Linked DNA regions of Homo sapiens: region 2 is linked to region 1. Evidence: fine-mapped expression QTL. A gene starts in region 1. The other region holds a variant in brackets. All regions are shown on one strand. Distances are between the middles of the regions.

What was found.
Region 2: its variant is fine-mapped to the expression of COA8 in whole blood (TOPMed, PIP 0.97).

The regions. Positions count from the first base shown.
Region 1 is chr14:103,559,327-103,567,653 of GRCh38, forward strand. It overlaps COA8 (cytochrome c oxidase assembly factor 8), which reads left to right and starts at 3,634. Exons shown (of 5, transcript NM_001370595.2): 1 at 3,634-3,798. The coding sequence starts at 3,676. It overlaps BAG5 (BAG cochaperone 5), which reads right to left and starts at 3,331. Exons shown (of 2, transcript NM_001015048.3): 1 at 3,290-3,331; 2 at 1-1,866. The coding sequence starts at 1,838. The coding sequence ends at 495. It also overlaps the pseudogene RNU4-68P. RefSeq lists enhancers at 1,936-2,449, 2,549-2,598 and a silencer at 2,939-3,588.
Region 2 is chr14:103,716,898-103,725,224 of GRCh38, forward strand. The region is part of intron 1 of ZFYVE21 (zinc finger FYVE-type containing 21); the gene reads left to right. Among named protein-coding and RNA genes, the nearest start is that of ZFYVE21, 5.3 kb to the left of the region's middle. RefSeq lists enhancers at 1,277-1,787, 4,405-4,905. The variant A/G (reference allele first, on the strand shown) is at 3,272.

The DNA of each region.
Region 1 (8,327 bases):
GGGTAGGACCAATCAGGCCTTATAAGTGAAAAAAAAGCCTTCTATCGAGCATAATGAAACAGAACATGTACTGCTTGTGTTTGAACCTTACTCTTATTTAACCAAAAATTTCCCCTTTCTCATAATTTTCCTAGTATTATGTAAGGTTATGCCTAGTTCTAGATTCTGAAAGACCTGCATTTTAATGCTTGCACAACCCATTTAAAATCTACAAAAGCTGCCTCTATTTTGTTTTCTGATTAAAAACGCAAAAAAAAGGACAAACCAAACAAACCACACCACATCATACAGATAATGATCCGAATGGAAAAGTTAACGTGCTGTAATGATATTTGTCTTGCAACATCAAAAGCAGCAGATACTGAATAGAATTTGCTTCAATCATAAATACTGAGACTGAAATATGCACGTATAAATCAATGAACTGAAAGCTCTCTATACATAGAAGCACATATGAAGTGCAAAACAGTATCAAAAGTGAGATCTCTGGTATTTCAGTACTCCCATTCATCAGATTTCAGGTCGAGATAGCTGAGAATATTCTGCGCAAGCCTCACAGCTTGTTTCCTGGCAGCCTTACACTTCTCTTCTCCCTGCGGATCAACAGCATCCAGGGCTAGCAGCTGCTTGGTGAGCAGCTCTTCCAGCCGGATGTAGTTCTTATCGGTTCGATTTCCATCAAATGAAAGAACTTCTCCCTGGATCTCAGACAAGTTTCCAAGGACGTTCCAGACGGCTTTATGGGATGGGTGCTCCTCACAAGCAAACAGCTTTCTTTTCTCAAGGGCCTCCTTCAAGTCAATATATGTGATCAGAGTTTGCACCTCGATCACTGCTCTTCTCCTGGCTTCCCGGATGCAGGGGTTTTTTTCAAGACTTACCTCATCCAACTGTCCAATTAAACCCTGCAATTCTGTTTTGGAGCTCAGGTACAATTCAGAAGGGTTTTGTGCTTGGAGAAGTTCATTTTTTATTTCTCTCATTCTCTTGAGGACCTTTTCTATTTTTAAAATGGAATGATTCTGTCTCAGGTCAAATGCTTTAGTTGTGTCTGCTTCCTCTTCCAAATCCAGATATTTCAATAATTTGTTGATATCTTCTACTACCTCCCTCCGATAATTTCTGATTTCTGTCCGGCCGCACACATCTAGAGCATCCAGGTCAGCGATCAGCCCCGAGAGCACACAGGATAAGTGCCTGCAGGTCTCATTGTTGTTCACACCCATCAGAAGTGCAATCAGGACCCCTCGGGCCTTGTTCACCTCACACATCACGAAGTTGATTTTGGCAACGGAAGGATGTGCATCCTCGGAAAGCGGCAGGGAAGGCTGCTTTTTCATGCAGTCTTCGATTATCTCTTGCACCGCACAGATTTTGGTTAAAGTGTGATACCTTGCTTTCCGCAAGGAGATTTTTCCTCCAGTTTTAACATGTGTCAGCCTCAGAATGATATCTTGGATGCCTTCTTCAAACTCATCAGTTACGCAGTTGCCTCCATTATAAAATGGCACAATTTTCTCTCTCACGAGGGACTGGGCTTCCTCAAAAATGTTCTGTATTTCAATCCGGTGTGGGTGGTTTGCATTCTGCTCCAACTCTTTGAGAAGACGTTCTGTCTCCTGTGCTGCCCGCTTCCTAGCTTGCTGAATATCTCCTTTTCCTTCAGTATCTACAGAGTCTATTTCAAAAAGCTGTTTTGTTAGAATCCTCTCCAGTTTCTTGTAATTCTTGTCATCTGACAGACCACTGAAGCCGATAACTTGCTGTTCTACACTTTTTACTTCCTTTTGGATTTCCTGAAGCCTACTAATAGAAGGATGTTGGTTTCCCATATCCATACTTTTGTTGTGTTCAGTTTCACAAGCACTAAAAGACGACAAGAATGATAACTTACTACAGCACAAGGCTTCTGCAGAACACTAATGGTATATTAAGTCATTCTAAAATTCTCATTTTAAAAAGGTATACTTCTGAGCAGTCATCCCACCTCAGCCTCCCCAGTAGCTGGGTCTACAGTCGTACACCACTACGCCCAGCTAATGTTATTTTTAGTAGAGACAGGTCTCACTATATTGCCCAGGCTGGTCTCAGACGATCCGCCCGCCTCCGCCTCCCAAAGTGCTGGGATTAAGGTGTGAGTCACCGTACGCGACACAAACTATTTGGAACCAGCAGGGCACCTTTATGAAAGGTGAAACAGTAGCTCTTGTAACCTTCCGAACACTAACAGTACCCCGCCCCGCCACACAGCTATGCCTAGTTTCCAGAAACTCTAAGCAAAAGAAAGAACCAGAACAAAAACCAGTGGCTCTCAGACATCCCCAAGGTCCCCGCTTCTTCGTTTCTCTCCATCCCTTTGTGCACTTCCCCTCCCCACCCTTTTAGCTCCTCACACATCTTCCCTCACAGAAGTCTCCCTGAAGAGATTAAAACCCCACAGGTAAAGAAGAGCGACCGGGACAGCGCTGAAGGGCACCACCTTGGGCTTTCGAGGCCCAACACCTCCTCAGCCCCCAACATGCTCCACTCTCTCAAAAAAAAACAACCCGCGAAAACGTGGTAACTATGAATAATTCATTCACTCGCCTCCCACTGGGAGTCCACAATGGCCTAATGCACGTTTCAAGCTCTTGGTTTCTATCAAACGGCTCGCTCAAGGTGGGTAACCAATGGAAACGCATAATCTATCCCCGGCGGATGTCCTGGAGGCCACGGAGGGAAGGCGGCCCGAGCTGCTTCCTCCCCGCCTCGCCCTTCCCTCTTGGCCCTTTACCCAAAAGAAGTCTGAATTGGATGCGGTCTTGGCGTCCCGTGGCTGAGGTGGCGAGGTGGAAGATCAGCCCTTTACGGGGTGCGGCACCGGAGCTGGGCCCCCAGCTGCATGCCTCGCACCCCTCCCGACTAGGTCTGAGCGGGGCAGCCGGTGAAGGGGCCGCTACTGGCTGCAGCAGCCGCTCCGGGCGTCTTGGCCCGGGTGCCAGGGCGCGCCTGCAGGACGTGACCTCACAATGGGCGCGCGAGGGGAGCTCGGCCCGGCCGGGGGAAGCCGGGGGAGGAGGGGAACCGAGGCCCGGCCGGAGACACCAGAGACCAGGCCCGGCCAGCCCCGGTCGCTTCCGACCCCAGGGGCGGGGACAGCGCCGAGACCGACTCTGCCCTGCCTGATCCGACAGGCCGCACGGGGCTGGGCGCTGGCGAAGGGGTGGCCCAGCGGGGAGCCCCGCGCGGAGGTGGTGCCCCACTCGTCCCCCCGAGAGAGGGAAAAGGCTACAAGCCGCGCTTCGCTCACCTGTCCCGCCCGCGCCATCGCGCGATGCGTCGCCGACGCTTCCACGACTTCCGCAGCTCCGGCAGTCGCCCGGGCCCGGCAGCCCCGCCCCTGGCCGAACACCCCTAAACCCGGGGACACCTCCTCCGGCGTCCGCGCCTAGCCGCCGGCAGCGCCACGCCCACCGCCAGCGGCGCAGCGAGGCAGCCTGGAGTGACCGCGACCAAGGAGCGGCCGCCCGGGTCAGCCCGCGCCGCCCGCCGCCCCCTCACCCCGTCGCACCGCTGGGAAAGCGCACGGTCGGCCGCGCCGCCGCGCTTCCTCGGGCTTCGCGACCCTGCCGTAAAGCGGCCCCTCGCGCCGTCGCAATGCTGCCGTGCGCCGCGGGAGCCAGGGGGCGTGGGGCCATGGTGGTCTTGCGGGCGGGGAAGAAGACCTTTCTCCCCCCTCTCTGCCGCGCCTTCGCCTGCCGCGGCTGTCAACTCGCTCCGGAGCGCGGCGCCGAGCGCAGGGATACGGCGCCCAGCGGGGTAAGCAGGGGCCTGGGGACATTGGGCCGGGAGGGGTGACCGGAAGGGAAGACAAACCCGGGCCTCGGGGCCACTCCCTGTTCTGCACAGCCGCCTCAGGCCTTTGTCCAGGTGCTCTCGCGTCCTATCCCGAACAGTCCCGCAGCCCCGAGGCTCCCGCATCAACGCCCTCAGTCGGATGGGACTGAGGGTGCCGCCGCCACCACGCCGGGGACTGTTGACAGCCAGAACCTTTAAGCGTAACAGAGTCACCTGGCAAGTTTGTACCTACCTTATTTGTTCCCGAGAATGATTATTTTTTATTTTTAAAGAGCTCTTGGCTTACCGTGCGTTTTTTTTCGTTGTGTGTGTGTGTGTTTTGGCTTTGTTACAATTATTAGTGCTTTTCTTCAAGCGGCGAGCACTTTATCATCGTACTTTTGTAGCACTTCACGTTGAATAGTTGTTATTTGCAAACTATGTGTGGGTATATGCATGTTACTGGCCAAAGATCCGCAAAGAATGTCTGTAGCAAGAATGTCTGTGGCAAGCAATTTTTATAAGTGGTACTTTTGGGAGGGATGTTTTGTTTAAGGGAGGCCTAGGCCTTGATTCCGTCTGTCAGATGAAAATGTTGACTAACGGTGTGGAATGGGCTGGAGATAAAATATTCAAGCAAAGCATGCAAATACCAAACAGGCTAATGAAGGAGGCTGGAAAACTTGGTTTAAACAATAATTAAAGAAGTATTAAAAAAGTGTTAATTAAAAATTGGACGGGCTCCGTGGCTCACGCTTGTAATCCCAGCACTTTGGGAGGCCGAGGCAAGCGGATCACGAAATCAAGAGGTGAGACCATCCTGCCCAACATGGTGAAACGTCTCTGCTAAAAATACAGAAATTAGCTGGGCATAGTGGCGCGCGCCTGTAGACCCAGCTACTCGGGAGGATGAGGCAGGAAAATCGCTTGAACCCGGGAGACGGAGGTTGCTGTGAGTCGAGATCGCGCCACTGCACTCCAGCCTGGCGACAGAGGGAGACTTCATCTCAAAAAAAAAAAAGCTAATTAAAAATTGCAAATGTACTTGCTTGTACATTTTCATTTCTGTTGGGCTGTGGCTGTTAGTACACTTTCATAATTGTAGCTTTGAAGGTCTATCTAGTTTACAATTTAAACAAGGAGTTACCAGGGCAACTTGCCAACCAGACACCCAAGTGGCTAGCTCAGTTCTGTGTTACAGTGACCAAGTCCTTGCCTTCTATCCCTAGAACATAGAAACCCACCCAGCATCTCTATCTTTGGGCAGAAAGATAGAGCAGGTGTCTGAAAATGCTCTAAGAGAGCAAACGGGAAATCAACCAAGACATTTCCCGGGCGGGGGGGATTTTCCCTAGCTTATTTTGTGAACTTGTGCTGGAAAGAAACAACAGCACCCAAATAAGGATTTCTCTATTGTCATATACACTTCTTTTTTTTTTTTTTTTTTTTTTTTTTGAGTTGGAGTCTCCCTCTGTCGCCCAGGTGGGAGTACAGTGGCGTGATCTCAGCTCACTGCAACCTCTGCCTCCCGGGCTCAAGCGATTCTCGTGCCTCAGCCTTCCGAGTAGCTGGGACTACAGGGGCCCACCACCATGCCCGGCTAATTTTTTTGTATTTTTAGTAGAGACAGGGTTTCACCTGTTGGCCAGGCTGGTTTCAAACTCCTGACCTCAAGTGATGCGCCTGCCTGGGCCTCCCAAAGTGCTAGGATTACAAGTGTGAGCCACCACTCTCAGCCTTAGACTTCTTGTTAAAGTAAAATAAATCTTACCATGGGTCTGTTCTCAAGATGAGAGACCTCTCTGCCTTGTTCGTTTTTTCTTTTTTCGAGATGGAGTTTTTGCTCTGTTGCCCAGGCTGGAGTGCAATGGCGCAGTCTCGGCTCACTGCAACCTTTGCCTACTGGGTTCAAGCAATTCTCCTGCCGCAGCCTCCTGAGTATAGCTGGGATCACAGGCGCATGCTGCCACGCCTGGTTAATTTTTTTTTCTTTTTTTAGTAGAGATGGGGTTTCACTATGCTGGCCAGGCAGGTCTCGAACTCCTGACTTCAGGTGATCCACCCGCCTTGGCCTCCCAAAGTGCTGAGATTATAAGTGTGAGCCACCATGCCCAGCCAGCACCAGCTTTTAATTGAAAAATATTATAGAACTTAAGAGTCAGGCACCATTCTTCCTTCCAAATCCATCTTTAAAACTCAGCTTTTCAGAAATATAACTGCTTTTGGTAAAGAAAAAAAAATTAAGACTTTTAAATTCTGTTCCCTAGCCACTTCATGCCTGCTTATGTCTTACCTATGTAGTTTGCATCATTGGTTCCTAAACTTGTTTGCACGTAAGAATTAGTCTGACTCTTTTAGTTCTTTTTTTTTCTTTAATCCGGAAGTTCCTGAACCAGAATAGGTTCAGAGATACTCCCTTTTAGTTCTTTTTAATCCATAGGTTCTGCCTCCATCACCTCCCCACCTTTTTTTTTAATTTTTTTTTTTTTTTGAGATGGAGTCTTGCTCTGTCACCCAGGCTGGAGTGCAGTGGCGTGATCTCAGCTCACTGCAACCTCCACCGCCCGGGTTCAAGCAATTCTCCTGCCTCAGCCTCCTGAGTAGCTGGGATTACAGGTGCCTACCACCATGCCCGGCTAATTTTTGTATTTTTTGTAGAGACGGGTTTCACCATGTTGGCCAGGGTGGTCTTGAACTCCTGACCTCAGGTGATCTGCTCACCTCAGCCTCCCAAAGTGCTGGGATTACAGGTATGAGCCACTGTGCCTGGCCCAAAGTCACTTTTAGCTTCAAAAATGAGCTGTAGGGTATGCCTTCTTTTCCTGTTTCCGTGGATTGTTTACTAAGGTTTGAATTTTTCTGTGACTGGTAGAACCTACAAGTCATTTGAACCTGAGTTTTCATAAGAACAAGCCATTTTAACCCCATCTTCTTTTTGGTTAGAGTTTAACCCCATCTTCTTTCTGGTTAGAGTTACTAAACTGGTAAATAAGAGTGATCCGGCCAGGCATGGTGGCTCACACCTTGCCAGCACTTTGGGAGACTGAGGCAGGCAGATCACCTGAGGTCAGGAGTTCAAGACCAGCCCGGCCAACATGGTGAAATCCTGTCTCTACAAAAATACAAAAATTAGCCGGGCATGATGGTGGTACCTGTAATCCCAGCTAGTTGGGAGGCTGAGGCGGGAGAATCGCTTGAACCCAGGAGGCAGAGGTTGCAGTGAGCCGAGATCGCGCCATTGCACTCCAGCCTGGGCGATGGACCAAGACTCATTCTCAAAAAGAAAAAAAAGAGTGAGCCATTGCATATTGATTTAAACAAGACATCTGATAAAGTCTCATGTATTTTTGAAAACCGTGTCCTGTATTGTGGTGCTTAAAACACCAATGGAAACATTTGTCTCAGGGTGGTTGGCATTTCCTGCACAGGTTCTTCATGAGGTGCCAGAGATACAGAAATGAATGTGTGTGCCTCTTTTCACACATGCACAGATGGCTCTCCAGGCAGGAGCTCTGCATGCTAACACATGCCTCCCTGGTGCCTAGAGCAGTGCTTGGCCTTTGCATGGTGGTGCAGGGGCAGGCAGGTTGATGCTTATGGAGAATGGCTGAATCCACCATGTCCATCTTTGGAATCTATCAGAAGTTTATTGTTTGCAGCTCCAGGCAGGGTCTCCTGAGGATGCAAGGGAGCACCACCCTGGGCCTGCCTGTTGGGCACCTAACTTCTGAGAGGAGGAGGGTTGGAACAAGTCCACAAATAACCATATTTTTCCCTTTTTTGGACATAGGGTCTTGCTCTGTTGCCCAGGCTGGAGTGCAGTGGCACAAACATAGCTCACCACAGCCTCAACCTCACTGGCTCAAGTAATCTTCCTGCCTCAGCCTCTTTAGTAGCTGGGGCTACAGGCATGTGCCACCGCACCTGGCTGATTTTTAAAATTTTTTTGGCAGGGCGCGGTGGCTCGTGCCTGTAATCTCAGCACGTTGGAAGGCCGAGGCAGGTGGATCATCTGAGGTCAGGAATTCAAGACCAGCCTGGCCAACGTGGTGAAACACCGTCTCTACTGAAAATACAAAAATTAGCCGGGCGTGGTGGCGCATGCCTGTAATCCCAGCTACTCGGGAGGCTGAGGCAGGAGAATTGCTTGAACCTGGTAGGCGGAGGCTGCAGTGAGCCAAGATCGCGCCACTGCACTCCAGCCTGGGCAACAATGCGAGACTCTTTCTCAAAAAAAAAAAAAAAAAAAAATTTTTTTTTGTAGCTTTGCACAGCGGCAGTATTGTAGCCAATGAGATTTATCTGAGGTGTGATTATTGATAATTGAAAACTTTTCCCAATACCCTGCCGTGATGACTTGCAATATAGTCAGCACTGGCAATTTTTGACAGTCTCTACAGAGACTGAAAACAAAAATTTTTTTTATAGAGATGGGGTCTCACTTTGTTGCCCAGGCTGGCCTCAAACTCCTGAGCTCAAGCAGTCCACCTACCTCGGCTTCCCAAGGTGCT
Region 2 (8,327 bases), 160 kb after region 1:
CGATAAAAAAAAAATTGGGGGAGAAAAAGAATTTTTGTAATATGACTTTCATACTTAACACGTGTTACAGATTCGTTTAATTCCCTCAGTGATAGAACTAAGCAGACGTTGGAACTAGGTTCAAGAAGTCAAAGTAGCACTAATTGACTGGGTTCATTGAAGCTTGGTTGGAGGCCTGGTGGGGGGTGAGCGGCCACAGAGCCTCGGGGACAGGACGGAATTCGAGTGACTCTGGGGAAGTGTCTCTGGCATCTACAGTGTACGGAGCCATCACCGGTCACTGAGCGTGTCCTGGAGAGTTGAGACCAGTGCTGCCCACCTCTCCCCAGTATCGCCACCATGAGGAGTCTTTTTAGACACTTTCCGCCAATCATCCTCCTTCATCTTTTTTAAAATTTACTTTTAAGTTGACACGTGAAAATTGTATTTATGGTGTAACGAACTCTTAATAGCACAGAAATACTCTACGTCTGTATGAACCGTAAGGAGCACGTGAGAAAGTGTGGCCAAGATGAGGCAGAGGTTTCCACCAAAGCACAATTTCTTTCTCCCTGCTGTACACATGCACTGATCTTACGGTTCTGTTTTATAGTGAACCACTGTGTTCCCCTCCTTCATTCTCTCTTCCAGAGCCCTTCTGGTATCAGCTGAATTGTTTAGCATTTTTCCCTGCCTTTCTTTGTGGCCTCTGCTGAGGCACTGTGTGGCAGTCCCGCGGTGACTTCCGACTGAGTGGAGTTGAAACACTTGAGTCAAGGTGGCACCCCTCGTGGAAGAGAAGATTCATTCCCACGCTGGCGTGGTGGCAGGATACCCCTCCAGAGCCCCCCACCATGTTTGGATGATTAACTGGGATCTGAGCAGCTGAGGGAGGTCCTAGCATTGGGTGGGCTTGGGGGACAGAGAAACCATTCTAATAAGATGGACTTTGTCTCTGAGTTTTGCGTTGTGAATTGTATTGGAGCATGGTCTTACAGGCCAGAAACGACCAAAGACAGTGTTCTGGAGGAACTTAGAACGGGGCAGTAAGGGCTGGAAGATTTGGAATAAAGTCCAGCTTTAGGTGCAATAGCTCGAGGGGACATGTACGGTAACAGTCGCCTGGCATGTGGTGATGCTGAAGGGGACACTGAGCTACACTGTGCTGGCTGCGTGCTTGGGGCCGCTAAGGTGATTGTCGGGAGGTGACTCAAATGTGCAGATAACCAGTTGTGGGAAATAGGTTTATTTGAGGTGGTTTGGAATGGGGAGAGGAGAATTTGGTAGAACTTGGCAGGTGGGTAACATTGTCCTTGGCTTGGTGGCCGTGTGCCGATCGGCATCATCGTCATATCTGTAAACGTGTTGGTCCATTTTCATTCCAGCTCTGTTCTTAGCCAGGGGAGTCTGAATCCAGCCCAGTGCCCGTCTCCCGAATACCAGCTGCCTGACCGGGCTGGTTTATCAGTTTGGGCCCATGAGGGTTATCCCTTTAAAATGCTGCAAAACCCCCTGGGGAGCATGTGCACACATGCACCTTTCTCCGAGAGGTGGCCTGCAGCTCTCAGATTCTCAAGGCTCTGACGCAGAACCAGTTGAGAATCGTTTCTCCAGTCTGTGCCTCCTCAGGAACCTGTGGGGCAGGGGAGGCAGAGGCGGCGTGTAAAGCTTCGTGCGACACCACTTTGGATAGAGGTGCTTTGGGGGTGTGAAGGAAGCTTCAGATGATCTCTGGGGCTTGTCTGACTCTGCCATCAAATATCCGACACTGACGCAAGGCAGTGGGCTTGGGGGTGGGCGGTCCGGGCGTGCAGCCATCTGGGCTTGTCACAAGCAGCTGAGATCCTGAGTTTTATCCTTAAAATCCTTGCCGCTGTGCACCCCTCCCACCTCCCATCCGTGGTGCTGGCAGAAGAATGACCGCAGCTCCATGCTGGCGGGTTGACACTTTGATGGATACTCTAGATTCAGAGCCAGGAAGGAGAGAGCACGTGCGCGTCTGATCACGAGCCTGGACTCGGATGAGGAGAGATCTGAAGTGAGGACTGTTGCTAGAGGCGTCTGGAGCTGTGCAGCGGGGAGAACAGGGGACCCTGAGTTCTGCGAGGGTCTCACAGGCCAGGCCGGACAGGGCTTTTCTTTTGCAGGGAGGAGTGGCCAAGGCTAGAAAGAATCAAGCTGGGGAGGTGGGATGGGCCAGTGGAGGGTCAGGACCTCCAGCAGATCAGAGAGCTGAGGCCAGAATACAAAAATTAGCTGGGCGTGGTGATGAGTGCCTGTAATTCCAGCTACTTGGGAGGCTGAGACAGGAGAATCACTTGAACCCAGGAAGTGGAGGTTGCAGTGAGCTGAGATCGTGCAGCTGCACTCCAGCCTGGGCGACCAAGCGAGACTCCGTCTCAAAATAAATAAATAAATAATAAAAATTCAAAAATTAGTCGGGCGTGGTGGTGTGTGCCTGTATCCCAGCTCAGGAGGCTGAGGCAGGAGAATCACTTGAACCGGGAAGAGGAGGTTGCAATGAGCCAAGATTGTGCCACTGCACTTCAGCCTGGGTGACAGAGCAAGACTCTGTCTCAAAAAAAAAAAAAAAAAAGTCCAGGTAAGGGAATTGTGTTCCAGTTGATCATGAGGAGAAATGGCCAGTGTTTTCTGAGGCAGAGAATGGGAATTTGGAGGGCCTTGCTGCAGGTAAGCAAGGGGGGCATCTGTGATCTCCTCTGGCTCGTATGGGGAGGGTGGTTCTCGGTGGAAGGCTTTCCCAGCACACTGCAGGGTGGGGGGTTTCATAATTGTTTCCAGGATCTCAGCGCTTGGGTAAAGCTCACCCCTGTGAGGTGCCAGGGGCTGCCAGAGCCTCCACAGGTGTTCTGGGAACCAGCAGCCTCATGAGATACTGCCAGGGACACCAGCGAGCTCCTCAAGGGTCCCTGTGGCTGGCTAAGAGCTTTTTCTTTTTTGAGACAAGGTGTTGCTGTGTCACCCAGGCTGGAGAGCTGTTACTGATGTTAGGTAAAACTGAGACTTTGAAGCCACAAAAAAGGATTCCTGGGCGTCCTGTGGGAGGCCAGGCCGCCTGTAGCATAACCCTCCCAGGCTGTGATCATAGTGTCTGCACCTGTCACCGTCTTCAAACTGTCTGACAGCTTCAAATTGTAGAAAACTGATAGTAACGCACGTGTTTCTAGTCCCTGAGATGCAAGTAGATTTTGTCTCTCAGAGGTGAAGTTGATGTCCTCTCTCACACACCCCACCGCGGGGTCCCTGTGAGAGGAGCCAGTTTACAACTCAT[A/G]TCTTCCTTCCTCACGGCCTGTATCCATGTCTGCTCTTTGGATTCTCCTTTGAACTGGGTTTTTAGTCTTATTGGTTCTCTCATTAACTAATGAGGTAAATCTTTGACGTGGGTTCCTTTTCTGTTTGTAGGAGTTACGCTCTACCAGTTAAACGTGATTATCTTTCAATAAAGGTGCATTGATACATGCATTTAAATTGTTTTTTGATTGGCGAGTTCTTGGGGGGCTGAGAATTAGTTGACTGTGGGAGCCCCACCAGCCAGTGGGTGACGCTTCTCACTGTAGTGTGGGAGCTCAGAGTGCGTGGTGGGGCCTGATGTTTTTTGTCACCCCAGCCTCAAAGGGAGGGCAGGCCTATGTCCATGTCCAGCCTGTGTCCTGAGACTTGGTTCTTTTTATAACTTTTTTTGAACATCCATTTAAACTCCCTAAACTATACTTTCAGATTATATGGAGGCGCTTTTGGTTTCTTGCGTGCTGCCAAACCCCACTCTTTGGGGTGGGCCGGGTGCTGGTTCTGAGGAGCTGCCCTGTGACCCTCGAGGGGCCGTTCCTGTTGCATTGGAGTGGGGGAGCGGGTCTCGACCTGCAGGTCTCTAAGGAGCTCCATGCTGGTGTCTGCCGCACTGTGGAGGAGTGATGGGCTTCATGATTTCTGTTTTTTGTTTTGTTTGAGACGGAGTCTCACTGTCACCCAGGCTGGAGTGCAGTGGCGCGATCTCGGCTCACTTCAGCCTTCACCTCCCGGGTTCAAGCCATTCTCCTGCCTCAGCCTCCCGAGTAGCTGGGACCATAGGTACCCGCCACCACGCCCAGCTAATTTTTAGGTTTTATTTTGTAGGGACAGGGTTGTGCTATGTTGCTCAGGCTGGTCTGAAACTCCTGAGCTCCAGCAGTCCACCCACCTCAGCCTCCCGAAGTGCTGGGATTACAGGTGTGGCCACCACGCCTGACCTGGTTTCTTCTTTCATTGCTCGCGGCCATCTTGCTTACCCACCGGGAAGCCTAGTTTATGGCATCTGCCTTGACCGCCTCCGAGCATGTCATCTGGCAGGGTGGGTGCAAGTCAGTTGTGGTTTACTGGACTAGCAAGGAGGGGACAAGCGCCCAGGGCTCTGACTCCTGTAGGCAGCCAGGAGAAGTGTGTTCCGAAATTTCACTGGGAGCCGTCTGCATGCACCTGCCCTGATCCTCGCTCCCTCTTGGCCCCGCTTCCCTTGAGACAGCTCCTTCTGTGTCCATATAGCTTCCCGCCGAGCCTGTGATTGGCCCTGCAAGGTGGCCACGGAGGCCTCCCATGGAGGTGAGTGCCAGGCGCCCCAGAGAGGCCTGGGCCGAGGCTGCCTCTGTGACGCCACTGCACAGGGCACAGAGGGCTCCTGGAGAGCACTTGGGCCCCGCCGTCCATCCTAGGGGGCAGTGTCTGTCATTAGCGGGTTTATCTGCTTGGCTTGGGCAAGAGGGTCAGGCAGCAGATGGGTGTTATTAGGGGCACTGCCCAAGCTGACCTTGCCTCACTCTCCCTCTTCATCTCTGTGTGTTTGTCACAGCCTGCACCTCTGGCCTCGTGGCCCTCACTAAACACCTTTATTATTTATTTATTCATTTTCCTCACTAAACGTCTTGAGGCCTGTTTCATTGGGTTGTTCTTGGAGGTTTTAGTTTCCCCAGCGAATGTGCTGGTTTGAAAGTCTGCTCCAGCCCACGCTGGTGGTGACACATGTGTACCTGGGATGTGACGCAGAGGCTGGCATTCCAGACACCGCTGGCCACCTACGGTGAAAACGGATGAATCACACTTGGTTTCTGGGCTTTGGTGTATTCTCCCTAGCTCCTAAAATAGCTGTTCCACTGAGCATCAGAGCTGCGGGGTCCAGTTAAAGGAGGCGCTGGTGGGAGCCTGGTCTGGGGCCCGGCTTGCTGTCCTGCGCTTCCTTTGCGGGGCGTGCTTACTGGCGGGGTAGGTATTTGGCAGTAGTTTTACCTTATGTCTTCATCCATTGCTTTATTTCATATTAAATTGCTCTGTTGATAATTTTTTAAATTTCTTTCACTAATATAATCAATAGGAAATTACCTTATTTAAAAGCCTATACATCTAAGCTCCTTGGTTATTTTATAGTAATAAACTTCTGGATCACTTATATTTTTAAGGGGGCAAATCCTAGGTGTGGTCTGTCTCTTTTTTTTTTTTTTTTTTTTTGAGACAGGGTCTCACTCTGCTTCCCAGGCTGGAGTGCAATGGCATGAACATGGCTCACTGCAGCCTCGACCTCCTGGGCTCAAGCTGTCCTCCCAGCTCTGCCTCCCAAGTAGCTGGGACTACAGGTGTGCACCACCATGCCTGGCTCATTAAAAAAAATGTTCAGGCCGGGCACGGTGGCTCACGCCTGTAATCCCAGCACTTTGGGAGGCCGATGCAGGCAGATCACAAGGTCAGGAGATCGAGATCATCCTGGCTAACACAGTGAAACCCCGTCTCTACTAAAAATACAAAAAATTAGCTGGGCGTGGTGGCGGGCACCTGTAGTTCCAGCTACTTGGGAGGCTGAGGCGGGAGAATGACGTGAACCCGGGAGGCGGAGCTTGCAGTGAGCCGAGATTGTGCCACTGCACTCCAGCCTGGGCGACAGACTCCGTCTCAAAAAAAAAAAAATGTTCGTAGAGACAGGGTCTTGCTGTGTTGCCCAGGCTAGTCTTAAACTCTTGGGCTCAAGTGATCCTCCTGCCTCAGCCTCCCAAAGTGCTGGGATTACAGGCGTGAGCCACTGCTCCAGCAGTGTGGTGTTATATTTAGAAATTGGCCTTTCAGCTTGCCCAAACACAAACTGCACAGTAAATGTGAAAAGCAGTCCTCTTTCACCACCGTCTGCTGAGAATATTGAGAGCCCTCTCCCCTCCTGTCGGGCGCTGTGGGCCAGGGTCACCATGGAGAGACCATCAATAGTTACTCTCACTGGAACCTGGTGATAACGTGGCCTCGTGTTTGCTTAAGCTCAGAGTTAAAACCCCCGTGAAGCTTTCTCTAGCAGATTCTAGTGGATTCTGTGGCTAGTGGATGTCTGGGGTCAGGGAAGGGGCCACCACACAGAGGCAGGGACTGTGCCACCGCACAGCAGGCAGAACATTCCAGAACCGACAGGCCCATTTGAGGGCAATGGCAGGGCTGGGCTGAAGCACAATCAGGGCGGGGAACAGCCAGCCAACGCCCACAGCCCGTGGGCAGGGAGCCCCTGGCAGAGCTGCCAGCTGGACTTTTTAGATGCTTCCAGAAGGCTGGGGTGGGCCAGGCCTGGTTTCCAAGTCCAGGAAGCAGCTTAAAAGCAAAGGGAAACAAAAAAAGGCTGGTCGTGGGATCTCACAAAGCTCAGGACCTGCCTGCCTGAGTTGGGGCAGTGGCGACATGGAACTCGGCAGGGATGAGGCCCTCGTGTGGGTCGCGACGGGCCAGTCCTTGCTGCAGAATGGCGTCTGAAGGGCCCCTGATGTGCGCCACAACCGGGACCTCTGTCCTCCTACAGTGAGGGTACACGTGGCTGTGGGCCCCATAGGACTCCTTCCAGAAGCATCTGCAGAGTCCCAGGACCACCAGACTCTGTTTTGCCAACTAAGCACAGTGGGCACTTGGCACCTGATGTGGACTGTCTCCGAGCCCCCTGTGGAGGGGCTGCAGGCTTCCTGTGCTGCCTGTGTGGGTCCCGCAGGCTGGAGGGAGGCCCCTGCCTTTGCAGATTGCAGGGTGGCAGGGACACGCTGAGGGTGGCGGGGACATGGTGAGGGTGGCGGCTGTGATGGCACCGCATCAGAGCAGCTCCTCCACACCAGCGTCTTCTGGGGCTCAGAGAAGGGGTTGGACTTCCCAGAGAAGGGGTGCAGGGCAGGGAAGAGTCCCCATGCCTATGAGGGAGAGGATCAGGGTGGGGTGATGGAGGATCCGTGGCTGGGCCCCCAGACCACAGGGAGGCTGTGCAGCCATGTCAGAGGCGCTGGGGGATTGGGCGGCCGCGCGGTCCCCACCCCAGCTCAGACCCAGGGGCCTGTGTTCCAGAAGGTGCTCGGCCCCGGTGACCCCACAGGCCTTGCCTGCCTCCTTGTGGAATCAGCCCCAGCAGTGTTCGCCGGCCCAGGGTTGGGCTGGAACGGTGCCATGCGTGTGGGAGCAGCTTTCCCACGGAGGGGCCGAGCCCTGTCAGCTGCTTGTCGGTGCCAGCACAGCCCGTCTGTCCTTGGTGGAGCTCTGAGGCGGCTCTCGCGTTAGATAAGACGTCTGAGCTCTTGTGTGGCTTGGTAATGCTGTGGCCACCTCCAGTCTGCCTCCTTTTCGAGACTTCAGGCCCTCAGTTTATGCTCGCCAGGTAATTCCTGGTCTCGTTTGGGGGCCCCCTCCTTCCCCCAGAAGGGAAAAGGGGGCTCTTCGTGGAGCGAAGGTCTTCTCTTACATCTCTTTTGAGGATTATTGTGCTTAGAACATGGATGATTCTTGGTCAATATTCAGCCGAGCCCTTAATCATCAGAAGCCAAAAGACCCTCCATCTCTCCCAAGAGGACCCCTTTGACTCCCACCGTTCCGTCGCTGGTTCATTGAACCCACACCTGTTTCTGGTTCACCACCCGCCACCGAGGTCTCTGACAGCGAGGACCAAAGCGGGGTGTGCTTGTCACACCTTGTTTCATCCTTACCAAGGACCCCAGAGCACGAGGGTCTTGTTCTCATGAAGCTGAGGGAGGCGAGGCGTCCTGGGTCCCGCAGCCCCCAATGCGCTGCTGAAGGGCCTGCTGGGGAGCGGGTGGGCAGCACCGAGGGCCAGCTTTGAAAAAGGCTGTACCGGCTTACCAAATCCGGGGACCATTTTCGTGGCAAAAGTGTCCCTCACTCTGTTAAAAGAATGCATGGTGACACAGATTTCCTTCAGAGCCAGGTCTGAATGTCTTCCCCTTGGACTGAAGTCCCTGCTGTTAGAGCGGGGGAGCCGGCGGCGATGGCGGCGTCCTCGTGCTGCGCTCGTGCCGGCGTCAGGGTCCCCCTGCCATCTGGAGTGAGCAGGAGGCGGCCAG